Homo sapiens: one gene and its partners. The protein of the gene in region 2 purifies or fractionates together with the protein of the main gene of each other region. This does not show direct contact. Each region holds a gene or a part of one and is shown on either strand. Other genes may lie near its edges.

Region 1 (3,500 bases), on a different chromosome or scaffold from region 2:
TTATATCAGTTGACATTTGCTTTAGCGTATTATTTGCTGTTGTTTACTATATCAGAAAAGAGTCTGTAGTAATAAACTTTCTTTTACTTTGAGCAAGGAAATACTTTTTAAATTAAGTGTATGTTTAAAATGTGGAAACAGAAAACATCAAATGTATAAACATTAACTTATTTAAAAATAATTCAGAAAAATAGCACTTTTACAGTTGGTACTAAGATCATATGTATTTTGGGTATGGGTCAGAACTTACCTAATTTAGAAGAAACAAATTGACAGTTTATCTTCATTTAGTGTGTGTGTGTGTGTGTGTGTGTGTGTGTAAGGGTACAGGATAGAGGGCTGAGGAATGTTACTTTAACTAATAAGTAATGGAAAATAAGTCATGGTCACCATTTCTTATTTGCAGTACTTAAGAGATACTTGTTTAGTTAGTATTTCTTTATTAATAGATTAGTATAATAATTTGGTGTTTAAGTTCTGGAGTCAGACTGTATAGATTCATACCCTAGCTTGCCACTGATTAGATTTATGATACTGAGAAATTTTAAAACTCTATATTGTTTCCTTTGTATCACAGTGGCATGTATCTACTTTACAGATTGTTTTATTGAAAGAGATAGTACATGCAAAGCACTCAACATAGTTCCTGGCATTTAGTAAATGATCAATAAATGTTAACTATTATTATCATCAGTGATTATAATTGTAATGGAATATTTTTATTCGGAATCTACTTTCCTTTAAATACTGTATATTTTCTGAAAAGTAGGGTACAGTTTGATTAATATTTAGAAGTATACTAGGATCTTATTGTCTAAAGGAACATTTTATAACCAAACTGGTTGGCAACAAATGTATGCCTACTGTGGCAGGCCCCGCTTTCATGAAACTTTCAATCTAGGGAGAGATGATGGGCATTAAATAAATAATTTTGTTTTTGAGGTGTGATGAATGTTACGAAGTTGTACTCAGTGCTTTCAGAGCAAGGAATGTGTGACCTAGTCTATAGAGTTGGGGGTGGAGGGGCAGTGGGAATAAGGAAGACTTCATTGAGAAAGTGTGCCTCAGAAACGTAGAATGAGTAGGAGATTGCTTAATGAAGTGGAATTGGAGGTTGAGGGGAGGTTGAGGGTCAAAGCAGAAGACACAACATGTGTGAGAGCCCTAAGGAAAAAAAGCTTGGCATCACTAAGAATCTGAGAAATGTTAAGTATGGCTGTTGCAGAGGGTGTGGGTCTGGGTGATGAGACTAGATGAGAGGTCAGGTTTGGCCTGCTTACAAGTTTTTTGGCCTCCTTATTGTTGTTACAAAAGTTTGAATTAGTTGTCAGCATTCACAGATCAGGAGATTTCATGTTAAAGTCTGGATTTCTGATCTTTCTTGAAAAATTAGAGGTTATGGCAACATCCAGTGTATTTTCAGATGGTAATATTCAAGCCACAACCCAGTAGCAGCTGCTCCCTTGGGAGGGGGACGGGGGCGGGCATGTGCCACTCAGAGTGCGAAATAAGTAAATACAAATCAATCAATATTTAACCTGGTTGTTGTTGAGTTTGCAAATTCTAGTCAGGATTCTAGAGAGTTTGTAGTTAAATATTTTGGTTTTTATCATAAATACTAAGAGAAGTTATTGAAGGATTGTAATAAAAGCAAGGGAATGACATGATCATTTTAAATTAAAAAAATTAAATAATCACTTTGGTTGCAATGATTACTTACTGGATGGTAAGAAGCAGGAGGATAACAAGTTAAGAGGGGCTGGGTCACAGAGGATATATTGGCTTAGATCGCAGTGGTGATAGTGGAGAATGAGATAAATTAGTGGAGAAAAGTGGTTGAGTCAAGAGGTGTTAAACTATTAAGTTTCACAGAAAATGGTGGTTGGTTAAATATGGGGCCAAAATAGAAAGAAAAGTGAGTCCAAGATAATGTCTAGGTTTCTGGGTGACATGGCCATGGATTAGTAAGAAATACATACTATATTTAATTAATGCCCTAATTTATAGATAATAGTGGTATTACATGAATTTAGTATATTTTCATGAGGAAACCAATATGTTCCCTTCTATTAAGTAGTTCATAAATAATCCAGAATTTTCAAACACTGTAGATACACTTTATAGATGATAAGGATATATCAAATGTGTAGTTTGGTGTTGATTATGGTTATTTATAGTATCTATGATTTTGCAGTACCCAAAACCAGAAGTTGTTATAATATACATGTTGTTATACGCTAATATACATAAAGTAATATACGTAAGTATACTTTGTGTACATAATAGATCTCAATAATTAAAAACTTTTTTTTTTAAAACTGACATTTGTTTTATATAATGGCATTTATAGATGGGCTTTGTGAGTTAAAAAAAAAAAAACCCAGCTTATGAGCTGTTTATCTGAATAGCTAATAAGTTTCACCCTCCAGTCAGAACTTTGTTAGTCTGAATTGAATACTTGAGGGTCAGGTATATGTTTACCTTTGATACTTTCCTCAAAGGCATTGGAGTTATAAATAAGGCTGCATCTTAGTTCTACTAACTAGCTGTGTGGCATTGTGCTAGACGTAATCACTCAAACCTGTGCGCTGTCCAGTACCATAGCCACTAGTTATATATGACTATTGCACTTAAAATGTGGCTAGTCCAGGCTGCAGTGTGCTTTAGTGAGTTTCTCAAGTTCTTCATGTTATGATTCGTGTTTTTTTTTTGCTTGATTCAGTTTTGTTACAAGAGTAGAGATTTCAAATCTCACTATTGCAATTTTAATTTTCTTGTCATCTTTCTTTGTCTCATCCCTCTTCTGGACCTTTTTTTTCTATCCTGTTTTTTATTTGGGGCTTTCTGCTCCTGTTTGGGCGACGTCACATTGTTTTATGCACTAATATTAAAGTCTGCTGGATGTTCCATTTCCCTTATAAATTGCTCATGGTTATTTTTCCCACTTCCCTTTACTCAGACATGAATTATTGTGAGGTTTGTTTGTATTTGACGTTTGTCAACAACAGACTGGTGTAGATGCCTTTGCTGCATTTGTTTTTTTTTTTTTTTTTTGGGTACATTCTGTGGTCCAGGCTGGAGTGCAGTGGCACAATTACAGTTCACTATAGTCTCAAACTCCTATGCTGAAGTGATCCTCCTGTCTTAGCCTTCTGAGTAGCTGAAACTATGGGCATGAGTTGGGACTACAGGTGTGAACAACCATGCTAGGTTAAGTTTTAATTTTTGTAGAGATAGGGTCTTACTTGTTGCCCAGGCTGGTCTCAAACTCCTGTGTTCAAGTAATCCTTTTACCTTGGCCTCCCAAAGTGTTCGGATTACAGGTGTTAGCCACTGCACCCAACCGAATCTTATTTTTATCGATATGGATACTTTCAAATTGGAGCTCATGCCTAAGATTGGAAAGTTGGTAATGCAGAAGCTAAGTATCTTCTAGAAATCAGTAGTACATGGTAAACATTAATTGATTTTTTTTTTTAAGTGAAAGCAAGTTTATTAGA
Region 2 (4,205 bases):
CACTGGAAAGCTGCAAGAAAGTAATTATGGCTAGGTGAAATGAAAAACTGACCAATCATGGAATGTATTCGTTCACCGTTCTAATAAGCCCAGCTTTTCTCAGTCTCAGGGTTTTGGTCCTGAATGTTACACTGTAGACATTGTGTGTTAATCGTTTCTCCAATCTAAAGATGGGAATTATCCTATGGGGAAAACATCACCTTGCTTTGGCCTTTACTTCCGGAGGATTTTAATGCTTCATTGCTAACATTATTTTAGTACTGCACACCTGGACACATCGCACAGTATAATGTAATATATGTAGTCAGGTTTTGGAGAATTTATTTCAATTTACATACAATCCTCCAAATCCTCTGGCGAGCTTGATGTGAAATCTGACACAGCCACATCTCCCTAGCAGGATCTTCTTTTGCTCTCTATGTTAATAGCCAAAGGCTCCAAGGATCTCTCCCTGGAGCGCGGTGGGGCTAAGGAGTCAGGAAGAGGGGTGACTGCGGGGCTTGTTGCGCTGAAGATTTACAATGTACTTCTTGCAGGCGGCTCAGCAACCCCCTCTGTGGCTGTGGGTGTCTGGTGTGACAGAGCGGAGAAAAGCTCTCTAATCTCCCAGTGCCTGCCTCTGCCGCTCAGTCGCTCCCCTCCCTCCCGCCTTTCCTGCCTCCTCGCGCGCTCCCTCTCCTTTGCCTTTCTCTGGGAGTTTCAGTCCCTCAATGCAGCTGGAGTAGCCCTGGCAATCTAAACCCGAAGCCTGTGTATATACACACACGCACACACGCGCACACACATGCACACGCGCTCGGACATACGCACTTCGGCTCTCCCCCTTGGGATATGGAGCAAACCCAGAGCTTCATCTACCTGAAGGGGATGGCCCGGCCGGACACTTCTTTCTCACTTGTCATCTCCGGAGGGCAGAGCAAGACTGGAATGAGGGAGTCTCGCTGTCGGGTCTGCAACCTCCTGCCGTTTGCCGCCACCGCCGCTTAAAGTGCCCAGGGTGGAGAAGGCTTTTCCAGGACGGATCTCCGTCGTAGCTTCGCGGCCCTGGGACTTCCTCCTGCTGGTTCACTCTAGTCTCTCCCACCTCGGCCATCCTTTTCTCTCCAGCTGCAGGGTGTATGGCTCGGGTGCCTCCCGTGCTGTGGCCGCCGTCACTGCTGCTGCGAGCACATTCCACCCAGAGGACCGAACGCCGCCGCTGGAGTGGGGGGAGAAAGCGAAAGCCCTAACTTCCCTCTCTACACCCTCGCTCTTCCCACCGCTCCCGTCCTTCTCCCTAGCCGAGAACCGGTTGGAAGGCTCCCGCGGAAAGCGAGGCGAGAGCGCGGCGCAGGGGAGGGAGAGCCGGGAGCCGCAGGCGCGCAGGGGCGGGGGCAGCATGTGCCCCGCCGCCGGGTGCTCGTCCGAGAAGTAGCGCGCGCTGGGCAAGCAAGACGCTTTCCAAGTTGGGCGCGTCCCAGAGCTCACAGCCCGGTGTCCAGAGTGAGGCGGGGCTGATGGGGGTCGCGGAAGCTGCCGTCGCTTGTGTCCAGAACCCGTCTTAAAAGAACCCGGGCCAGCATCCCCAGTCGCGCGCCCTCGGCCCGCGTGAGCTCTCCGATGCCTGCTCTGGCTGTGGCCCGGGTGGCCCGCCCGCGGGGGGTGCCAGAGGGGGCGGGGGAGGAGGAGGAGGCGGTGTGATGGCCCTGGACGGCGAGCTGGGGGAGCAAGAGGAGGAGAAGAAAAAGAAGAAGAAAAAGAAGAGGAAGAAGAAGAAGGAGGAGGAGGAGGAGGAGGAGGGGGCCGAGAAGAGCAGCTCACCCTTCGCAGCCGCGATGGGGGAAGACGACGCCGCGCTTCGGGCTGGCAGCAGGGGGCTCTCCGACCCGTGGGCAGACTCAGTGGGAGTGCGACCCCGCACCACGGAGCGCCACATCGCCGTACACAAGCGGCTTGTGCTGGCCTTCGCTGTGTCCCTCGTGGCATTGCTCGCGGTCACAATGCTCGCTGTGCTGCTCAGCCTGCGCTTCGACGAGTGCGGGGCGAGTGCCACGCCAGGCGCCGACGGTGGCCCCTCAGGCTTTCCGGAGCGCGGCGGCAACGGGAGCCTCCCTGGATCGGCCCGGCGCAACCACCACGCAGGCGGGGACTCCTGGCAGCCCGAGGCGGGTGGGGTGGCCAGTCCGGGGACCACGTCGGCCCAGCCGCCGTCGGAGGAGGAGCGGGAGCCGTGGGAGCCGTGGACGCAGCTGCGCCTGTCGGGCCACCTGAAGCCGCTGCACTACAATCTGATGCTCACCGCCTTCATGGAGAACTTCACCTTCTCCGGGGAGGTCAACGTGGAGATCGCGTGCCGGAACGCCACCCGCTACGTAGTGCTGCACGCTTCCCGAGTGGCGGTGGAGAAAGTGCAGCTGGCCGAGGACCGGGCGTTCGGGGCTGTCCCTGTAGCCGGTTTTTTCCTCTACCCGCAAACCCAGGTCTTAGTGGTGGTGCTGAATAGGACACTGGACGCGCAGAGGAATTACAATCTGAAGATTATCTACAACGCGCTCATCGAGAATGAGCTCCTGGGCTTCTTCCGCAGCTCCTATGTGCTCCACGGGGAGAGAAGGTATGGAGGGAGGCGGTGCCCCGCGCTGCCCCACCCCGGCGCGCGGCTCGAACCTCTGGGCGGCCTGCGACCCCGGGGACCCAGCTGGCTTCCAATACCCGGGAAGCCAGGGGTGGGGGGAAGGAAACGAAAGCGGAGTAGGGCAGTCAGAACTCCGGGGTCTCCCAGATGCCTCGGGGTCTCGCTGCCGCCAACTTCGCAAACTGACTCACCGGTGCCAAAAGATGAATGCTGCCCCCTCCTCTAGTCGGGACCTCTCCTCTTCCTGTCAGAGTTCCTTAGCCATCGAAACGCAGGGCTCTTTTTCTGAAGGGTAGCTGATAATCTGAGCGATGCCAGAGTGACATGAAAAGCTTGCCAAGTTACTGTCGAGGGAAAATACGTGGCGCTGAAGGCCAAGACAACAGCGCATCCAGGTTAGCATGTCAGGGCAGGTCAGGGACACACCGTTCTCCACCCCCACCCACAACATGCCCATCTTCCCTGACTATTAGTCTCCTGCCAGGTGCAGAGCAGAGGATGGGCTTTGGCTGCGTCAAGTTTCCCCAAACTTCAAGTTGAGATTCGGAGTGAAAAGAGTGGTTTCCAGAGATAGGCTGAGAGGACCGGGACGGGGGTGGAGGTTGCCAAGGCCAGAGCCAGCGATAAGTGGCCTCGCGGGCGCTGCCAGCTCTGTGCTAAGGCAGGGCGACTCCGGTTGTTTGTTTATGAGTTGCTGCCTCTGGAGATGATTCCAGTGGCCAAGCGGTGGGAAAGCTAGTTGTCAGTCTCAAATGCCTTGTTAGTGTCTTTGCCGCGTTTTACATTTGTGTAGTTTTGTATTTTTATAAAAAATTTCCGAGAGGCCGTGGAGCTTTTCACCACTTGTTTAGAGCTCAGACCTCATAATCCAATAGAACTGAGTTCGAATCTCTGCTGTTCATCTAACTCTGGTGGAGGTTTGAGGAAGGTAATTAACCTTTTCCTGACATGACTACTTCTAGTGCTTATTGCACGCCCATGTACTCAATCCGACAAGAACCCTATGAGGTAGACGCTATTATCAGCATTCCCTATTTTACAGGTGGGGAAATGGAGGCACAGGTGTGTCACATAGCTTGATCAAGATCACCAAGAGTGAGCAGACAAAGCACGGATTTAGACCCAGGGAGTCTGGCTCTTGAGCCTAGACTTTTAATTCTAACTTGGGGATACCAATAATAATATTCTACTTGTAGGATTGGTGTAGACGTCTATGAGTGAATGCATTACAAAGTACTTACCCCTGTGCCTGGCATATAGAGTATCCACCATAAATGCTAGCTCTCATGAGTGTCTTGTGGCAGTAAGCTCTCAGGTATATTGTTGAATGAATAAGTGATTCTTGTTCTTTGCTCTAATTCCCACATTGCTAAGATAACTTAGATTAATTAAATGACTGAGGGCAGATGAACAACCAAAGTGAGCTTAAAAATTAAACCAACAACTTTAGAAGAGGAGGCAGGTTACAGATCAGTAATGAGGCAGAGCCTCTCCTTTTCTCAGGTGATTCTCACAACAGCAGAAAATGGGCTCGGAGAAGCCCAGGGCCCTGGAGGTGAGCAGGCTTGTCAGTGGAGAGTTAGGACTTGAA
Region 3 (3,136 bases), 7.0 Mb from region 2:
TTATCCCTCTTTGTCCAACCTTTCAACAGGTCATGTCATATCTACTCCATAATATGTCCTGATTCTATCCGCTTGTCACTTGCACTGTTGGCCTGTCTTACCCACATCATTATCCTCTCCTTCTTAGACAACTATAATATAATAATAACCTTCTAACTGGTCATCTTGCATTCACTTCTGCTTTTACCTGAGTCTCCACATAACAATGTATTTTTAAAATATGTAGTTTTAAAAGACAGATCTCATCCTATTCTACTCCTTAAAACAGTTGAGTGGCTATTACTCTTACCATAATGCCCAAATACTTTTTTGTAGCCTACATCATCTTAAATAATCTGACATCTTCTGTAGGTTTATCTCTATTCTTTCTACTCCAGCCACATTTGCTCCTTCGTGCCCCAGGAGCTGTGTACAAGCAATCACCTCTGCTTGAAATCTTCCTTTACACACCTCTCTTCACCCTGCTAATTTTTATTCTTCAGTTCCCACATAAATTTCACTTTTTCAGGGAAGTTTTATTTTCTCATATGAGGTTAAGTTACTTTTAAAAAGCTTTTTGTACTTTTTTTTTTAAGGACTTAATCACAGTTGTACTTTCTTACATGACACTCTTTATCATCTGTCTCTCCCATTAAACTGTAAACTCTTTGATAGCAATGACTGTCTTACTCACCTTAACATCTAACCAGGGGTCTGGCTCCTAGTAAAAGCATGCAGTGAATATTTTTTGAATGAACTGAATGATTGAATACCTTTCAACAAACTAGAACAATGTCAAATAGTAAAACTAACTTGTTTTTTGTAGCATTTCATTTAGATAGAAGAAATTCACCACCAAATAGTTTGACACCGTGTCTAAAGATTCGGAATATGTTTGATCCCGTTATGTAAGTATTATGATCAGGGGTACATGTAACTCTTATTCTGAATATTTGGCTGGAAAATGCATGATATTCTTATAATGGTGTGTCTGTAATTGAAAATGTTTTTCTTCTGAATCTCTACCACAGAAATGTTATGTTTTTCTCTTTCATTAAATTCCAAGCAAAGATTTGGCCAAAGGACACTAATGTATAAAGATTTGTAAAACTTTTATAAATCTTTGTATTCCTTATGAATCGTCATAGCAGATAGATAAATGCTTGAGGCAAATTAATGACTCACAATGACAAAGAGTACCCTTTATTAAATGTGTAAGTCATTATACATGACTGTCAATATTTTTGCCTCAGTAGAAAATATAGATACAATCACTGCTGCTTACAAATTTCAAATCTCAAATTGTAAAAAGTTTCCTACAAAGATGTATATACCTGCTTCTCTACAAAGTCCTGTCTCCACTTGTCAATATAATATTTGAAGAACTTTTCAGACTTTATAATTCCAACAACATATGCTTCCAGAGAATAGCACAGTCAAAAGTGACTGCCTTAGAATTCACAGTATTTCATATATAAGCTGTAATAGTTCTTAGAATTAGCTTCCTGAGGGCACTGCTTATCTATCCAGTGATAGTACAGATCAAATTCTGTTTGTTTTAAAAGTCCCAACAGTGGCAATTACAATATGTATACAATACCCCCAAAGTCTCATCTAATCACTCATTGATGAAATTCCAAATAAGTGACAGCAAAATTGGAAATGTGAGGAAGCAGTATGCACACGTGTTTGCACGTGGGCACGCGCACACACACACACACACACCCCCCCCACACACACAGAGACAAACACCGCCTCTATTTTGCAGAGATAGAAACAATTAGTAGTGTGATGATACCTCTGTTGGGAATCTTACCTCATGCCTTAGGAATTGGCAAGTCCACTATTTTATTACCTAAGATGAAAATTTGTGATTTGAAGTGAAGTCACTTTCCTCTCTCTCCTGCCATCTTTGTCTCACAAGCAAGACAAATGTCCCTTACTACAGCAGAAACACCTTAAAACTGTCATTATAGTAAGGTGACTGTACAAAATGTTAGTCCTGTATCAATTATTTTGGAAAAGAGAAGCTCAAATGTAGTATTTACTAAGAATTTTCTTTAGGAATTTGAACCTATCATTACAATTAAAGAAAATAACATTCGGCTGGGCACAGTGGCTCACACCTATAATCCCAGTGCTTTGGGAAGCCGAGGTGGGTGGATCACTTGAACTCAGGAGTTCGAGACCAGCCTGGGCAATGTGGCAAAACCCCGTCTCTACAAAAAATACAAAAGAAATTAGCCAGAATTGGTGGTGTGTGCCTGTAGTCCCAGCTATCTGGGAGGCTGAGGTGGGAGAATGGTTTGAGCCTGGGAGGCACATATTGCAGTGAGCCGAGATCACGCCACTGCACTCCAGCCTGGGTGACAAAGCGAGACCCTGTCTCAAATAACTAACATTTAACTTTTACAACTTTAATAAGTTCACAACTCATTTAAAGTACTTATTAACAATAGAAAGAAAACAGAAATTACTGTAAGTACACAGGATTTTTAAACATAGGAATGACCCAATCCATTTATTCTGCAGCGGTGGGCTAGTCTTTCATTGCCTCAGCTCTCTGCACTCTTTTTTTTTTTTTTTTGAGACGGAGTCTCACTCTGTTGCCCAGGGTTGAGTGCAGTGGCGTGATCTCGGCTCACTGCAAGCTCTGCCTCCCAGGTTCACGCCATTCTCCTGCCTCAGCCTCCCGAGTAGCTGGGACTACAGACACCTGCCACCACGCCTGGCTAATTTTTTTTTTTTTTTGTATTTTTAGTAGAGACGGGGTTTCACCGTGTTAGTCAGGATGGTCTCGATCTCCTGACCTCATGATCCGCCTGCCTCGGCCTCTCAAAGTGCTGGGATTACAGGCATGAGCCACCGCGCCTGGCCAGCGCTCTGCACTCTTTTACTGGAAAGTGGGAGGAGGGCTGAGACTTCTGAATTGTAATTTTTAAATCTACCTCCTGTTAGTCAACAAGCATTTACTTAATACCAATTAAAATCGTATGTGGTTTTAAAACTATACCAATTCTAGTAATATATATATGTTGTAAGAGACAGTGAAGAATTTTTACCGAGTAGGAATATGGTTGTTGATTTTTGTTTTCATTAACTTTTAGGGAAATAGGGGATCAGTGGCATTTGGCAATTCAAGAAGCAATTTTAGAAA
Region 4 (3,500 bases), on a different chromosome or scaffold from region 2:
AAGCTTCAGCTTCCCTCCCAGGAACTCTTCGTAAAGCCAGCAGGGAATCAAGTCTCTCTTATTTGGCATCCCCACTACTAGTCTAGCGAGTGCTGTCCGAAAGAACTTTCTGCAGCGATGGAGACATACCACATATGCACTGTCATGTGGCCTCATGTGACTACTGAGCACCTGAAATATAGTTACTGCAACTGAGTTGCACTTTTAATTTTATTTAAATTAATTTAAATGTAGACACATGTGGCTAGTGGCTACCATTCTGGACAGCAAAGGCCTGGGGAGTAGAATGAGCAAGAATGTGTGTGTTTAATAGTGGTCTTTTCAGGTCTTTTGGTTTTTGGAAAACGAAATTCAGTATGTGAATAGCCCTATGGTAGAAAACAAATTCTGATGCCAAAAAAAATGTAGTTGGAAGGTTTTTTGTTTCCTTCACATTCACTATTTTTGAAATCCACGGTTCTGTGGTATTACATACATATTACTTTTGAAAGGTCACTCTTCCGTCATCATTTTATTTCAATAAGTCCTAAACCTTCTGTGGTAGCATATTGGAATAGTAATAAAGTCATGCCATGTTATTTTGGATAAGCAAAAGGATTAAGCTGGATTAAAGAGAAAATGATTCTAGAATTTTTGACCTACCTTCTCCCAAAATATAATTTTTTTGTGAGATAATTTGCTGTTCTAACTTCTCATTGATGAGGAAAAGCCTCAGTTATTTGATTTTAAAAGACAGGGTCCTCTGTACATTTGGGGGTCAATCTAATTTCCGCAAAATGTACCCAATCCATAAACAGACTCTCAAAGTTTGAAGTGGAAGATTAACCACTACTAAGACACACATACACATAAGGATGTCCTCAATCTGAATTCTCCATGGTATAAAGTCACCCACTCCAATTTCTACCCTCACATTAACCTATATTCTGCCCATTCGGGATATATATTTCCTGCTCAAATCCATCAGTTTCACTATTTCACCACTTGCACCATTTGCACCATTTCACCATTTGCAAAGCACCTTAAACACACTTAAGAGGTGAATATTATTTAAAGTTTACTAAACAATTTAAGTCAATTCTAGACCGATGAAGTACCTAATTCCTAGAGAAATACATTTCTGTTCTCTGTACATCAAAACATTGTTAGAACAGCTATAAACTCAAATGCAATTATGTTCTCAGGCAATGTTAAATTGAGCAATAAAAATGCTAAGCTCAGAAATGACTGGTTTGCTAAGGGAAAAAAAATCTCTCTTCCCACCCCCACCTCCCCACACTCCTTTCAATTGGTTAACTTCTATTAGAGAAGCCAGCATTCTCAAAATGAGGTCTGAAATAAGTATTTCTTTCCCAATTTGTTTATTTCAATGAAATCAACTTGTATTGATTTTAAAACAAATAAACTTGATAAAATTCTACTCATGCTTGGGAATCAGTCTGCTTAAGAATATTAAGCTCTACATAATAATTTCTTATCCTCACCATTAACTATTACAGGCTCATTTCCAAAGGCCTGCTATACTGAAATTCCATTGATTTTTGAAACATTCCAACAACATACTTGGAAACATTACACAAATATTTTATCTCCAACATTATTTCTTGCAATGAAATACTCTCTTGCAATATTCAAGGCATGAGAATTAAACTTCACTTAGCCCAAATATAACACCCAGCAACTGCAAAAATTGAAAAAAATGACTAGTGGTGATTAAAAAAACTGACTGGCAAAGTAAAATGTTCTATGATATACCATGTTGCTGGTGGTATGGGGAAATAGGCATTCTTATACAAAAATAAGAACTTTTGCACATTAGAAACACTCTTTTCTGAGAAAAAATTGGAAATACCTATCAAAATTCATTCATACATTCTGATACTGTAATTTCATAGTTACAAATTTTTGCTATAAACAGCCCATCAATATTGATTAAAGTATGCCTATAAAATGGAATACTATGCAGACATGAAATTAAAAAGGCAGATCTATATCCAAAATACACTAATTTGTTTTTAAGAAGGTACAAAAGGTTGCAAACTATATGAATTCATTTATATAACATTTTGCAATGTTGGCCAGGGTGTGAGGGGAAGGAGGAGGAAGTTTCTCATTTTAACGAATAACTGGTAATTGAGGAGGAGGAGGAAAGAGCAGTCTCCACCGGCTTCACATGCGGCACAGAGACCAGAAAAAAAGCAACATGGCCTTGGGAAACAGTTCTTTATGAAATCTGCTCTTGATCGTTCTATCTTGAGGATATGCCAACTTCATGAGACCCCAAAGTAAAGACTTAGAACATTTTCCCCGTATTGCCTTTGTAGAGAGACAGCCTTACTCACAGCAGATACTCAGGAGCTTGACAAATCAAAATCTAGATTTTTGTCAATTATTATGACCAGATTCTTTAAATATAAAATTCATAATTGATCATGAGTTAAGAGAGTGGCTACTCTCAAAGAAGTGAAATATCCTGCTAATTAATAAGGGGTACATCAAAATTTTTAAAACCTCATTCTTTTATATTCAAAAGTCCTGTTATTATAATTAATTGGTATTTTTCAGGTTTTTCTTTCTTGGTCACTTTGGTCCTACCCAAATCTAGATTATTTAATGGACTAGAGCAAGAGTCACCAAACATTTTCTTAAAGGGCCATATCATAAATATTTTAGGCTTTCCAAACCAAGACAAAAATCAATCAATATTGTAACTACTCAACTCTGCCATCTTACCTCTGTATTTTATCCAGCTAAAGTGTCAATTAACTGTCAGGTTTCCTGACAAAATTTAGGAATTTAATCTTCTGCAAATCTTATACTTGTAATTGGAGGCAGAGTACAAACAAAGGCAGGGGTCTCTAGAGTTGACACTCTGTGTGATGGTCATGCCACACTATCCTTGCTCACCCAAAATTTTGTGGCTAAACAAAGAGGGCCAAGACTGGAGACTCTCCAACCATCCTCTCCAGCTCTAAATGTCTATATTAGGATCAGTGTATAAGCACAAAAGCTCACTGATCTTTCAGTTATTTCTGCCTTTGTTCAGGTTTTCCACACCCAGGGCACCAATCTATCAGATTTTGAATACCAGAAGCTTAGAATGTTTACAGGTACTCTTAAAAACAATTAGGGAAAATTATTAATTCAGATAAATTTTCTCCCCTTAAAACCCAAGTTTTTAAAATTTTCAAAACCACTAGGTTTTGAGTCTGTGAAAGCTCTGAATCCCTAAACTTAAGCAGCCTTGCTGAAGTGAAAAAATCAAGCTTTATCAGCTTTTACTTAAGTCAGGGTGACTTAAGTATAAAACACATATGGCAGTCATATTTAAATTAAGAGACTAGTTAAAATATTTATTAGCCCCTATTGAAAAATATTTAATAAAGAAATGTCTGGCAGGCTAAGCCGCTTAACTAGATGAGGGACATAGCTAAAGTGATTATTTTTATCAGTCTTCTATATACATGTTGCATATTTCATGACCACAAGTACCATACAGT

The links. The genes of interacting proteins can lie anywhere in the genome.
Region 1: the proteins of TRHDE (region 2) and MAN1A2 purify together in Homo sapiens (affinity purification with mass spectrometry; 2 studies listed by BioGRID and IntAct, with this or other methods). This does not show direct contact.
Region 3: the proteins of TRHDE (region 2) and LEMD3 purify together in Homo sapiens (affinity purification with mass spectrometry; 2 studies listed by BioGRID and IntAct, with this or other methods). This does not show direct contact.
Region 4: the proteins of TRHDE (region 2) and TSPAN3 purify together in Homo sapiens (affinity purification with mass spectrometry; 2 studies listed by BioGRID and IntAct, with this or other methods). This does not show direct contact.

What each region holds. Positions count from the first base shown.
Region 1 is NC_000001.11:117,370,449-117,373,948, forward strand, and holds part of MAN1A2 (mannosyl-oligosaccharide 1,2-alpha-mannosidase IB), read left to right. Parts: intron 1-3,500. UniProt on the Homo sapiens protein: Involved in the maturation of Asn-linked oligosaccharides. Progressively trim alpha-1,2-linked mannose residues from Man(9)GlcNAc(2) to produce Man(5)GlcNAc(2).
Region 2 is NC_000012.12:72,270,965-72,275,169, forward strand, and holds the start of TRHDE (thyrotropin-releasing hormone-degrading ectoenzyme), read left to right. Parts: upstream 1-1,405; 5' UTR 1,406-1,679; coding exon 1,680-2,593; intron 2,594-4,205. UniProt on the Homo sapiens protein: Specific inactivation of TRH after its release.
Region 3 is NC_000012.12:65,242,583-65,245,718, forward strand, and holds part of LEMD3 (inner nuclear membrane protein Man1), read left to right. Parts: intron 1-805; coding exon 806-887; intron 888-3,086; coding exon 3,087-3,136.
Region 4 is NC_000015.10:77,047,110-77,050,609, forward strand, and holds part of TSPAN3 (tetraspanin-3), read right to left. Parts: intron 1-3,500. UniProt on the Homo sapiens protein: Regulates the proliferation and migration of oligodendrocytes, a process essential for normal myelination and repair.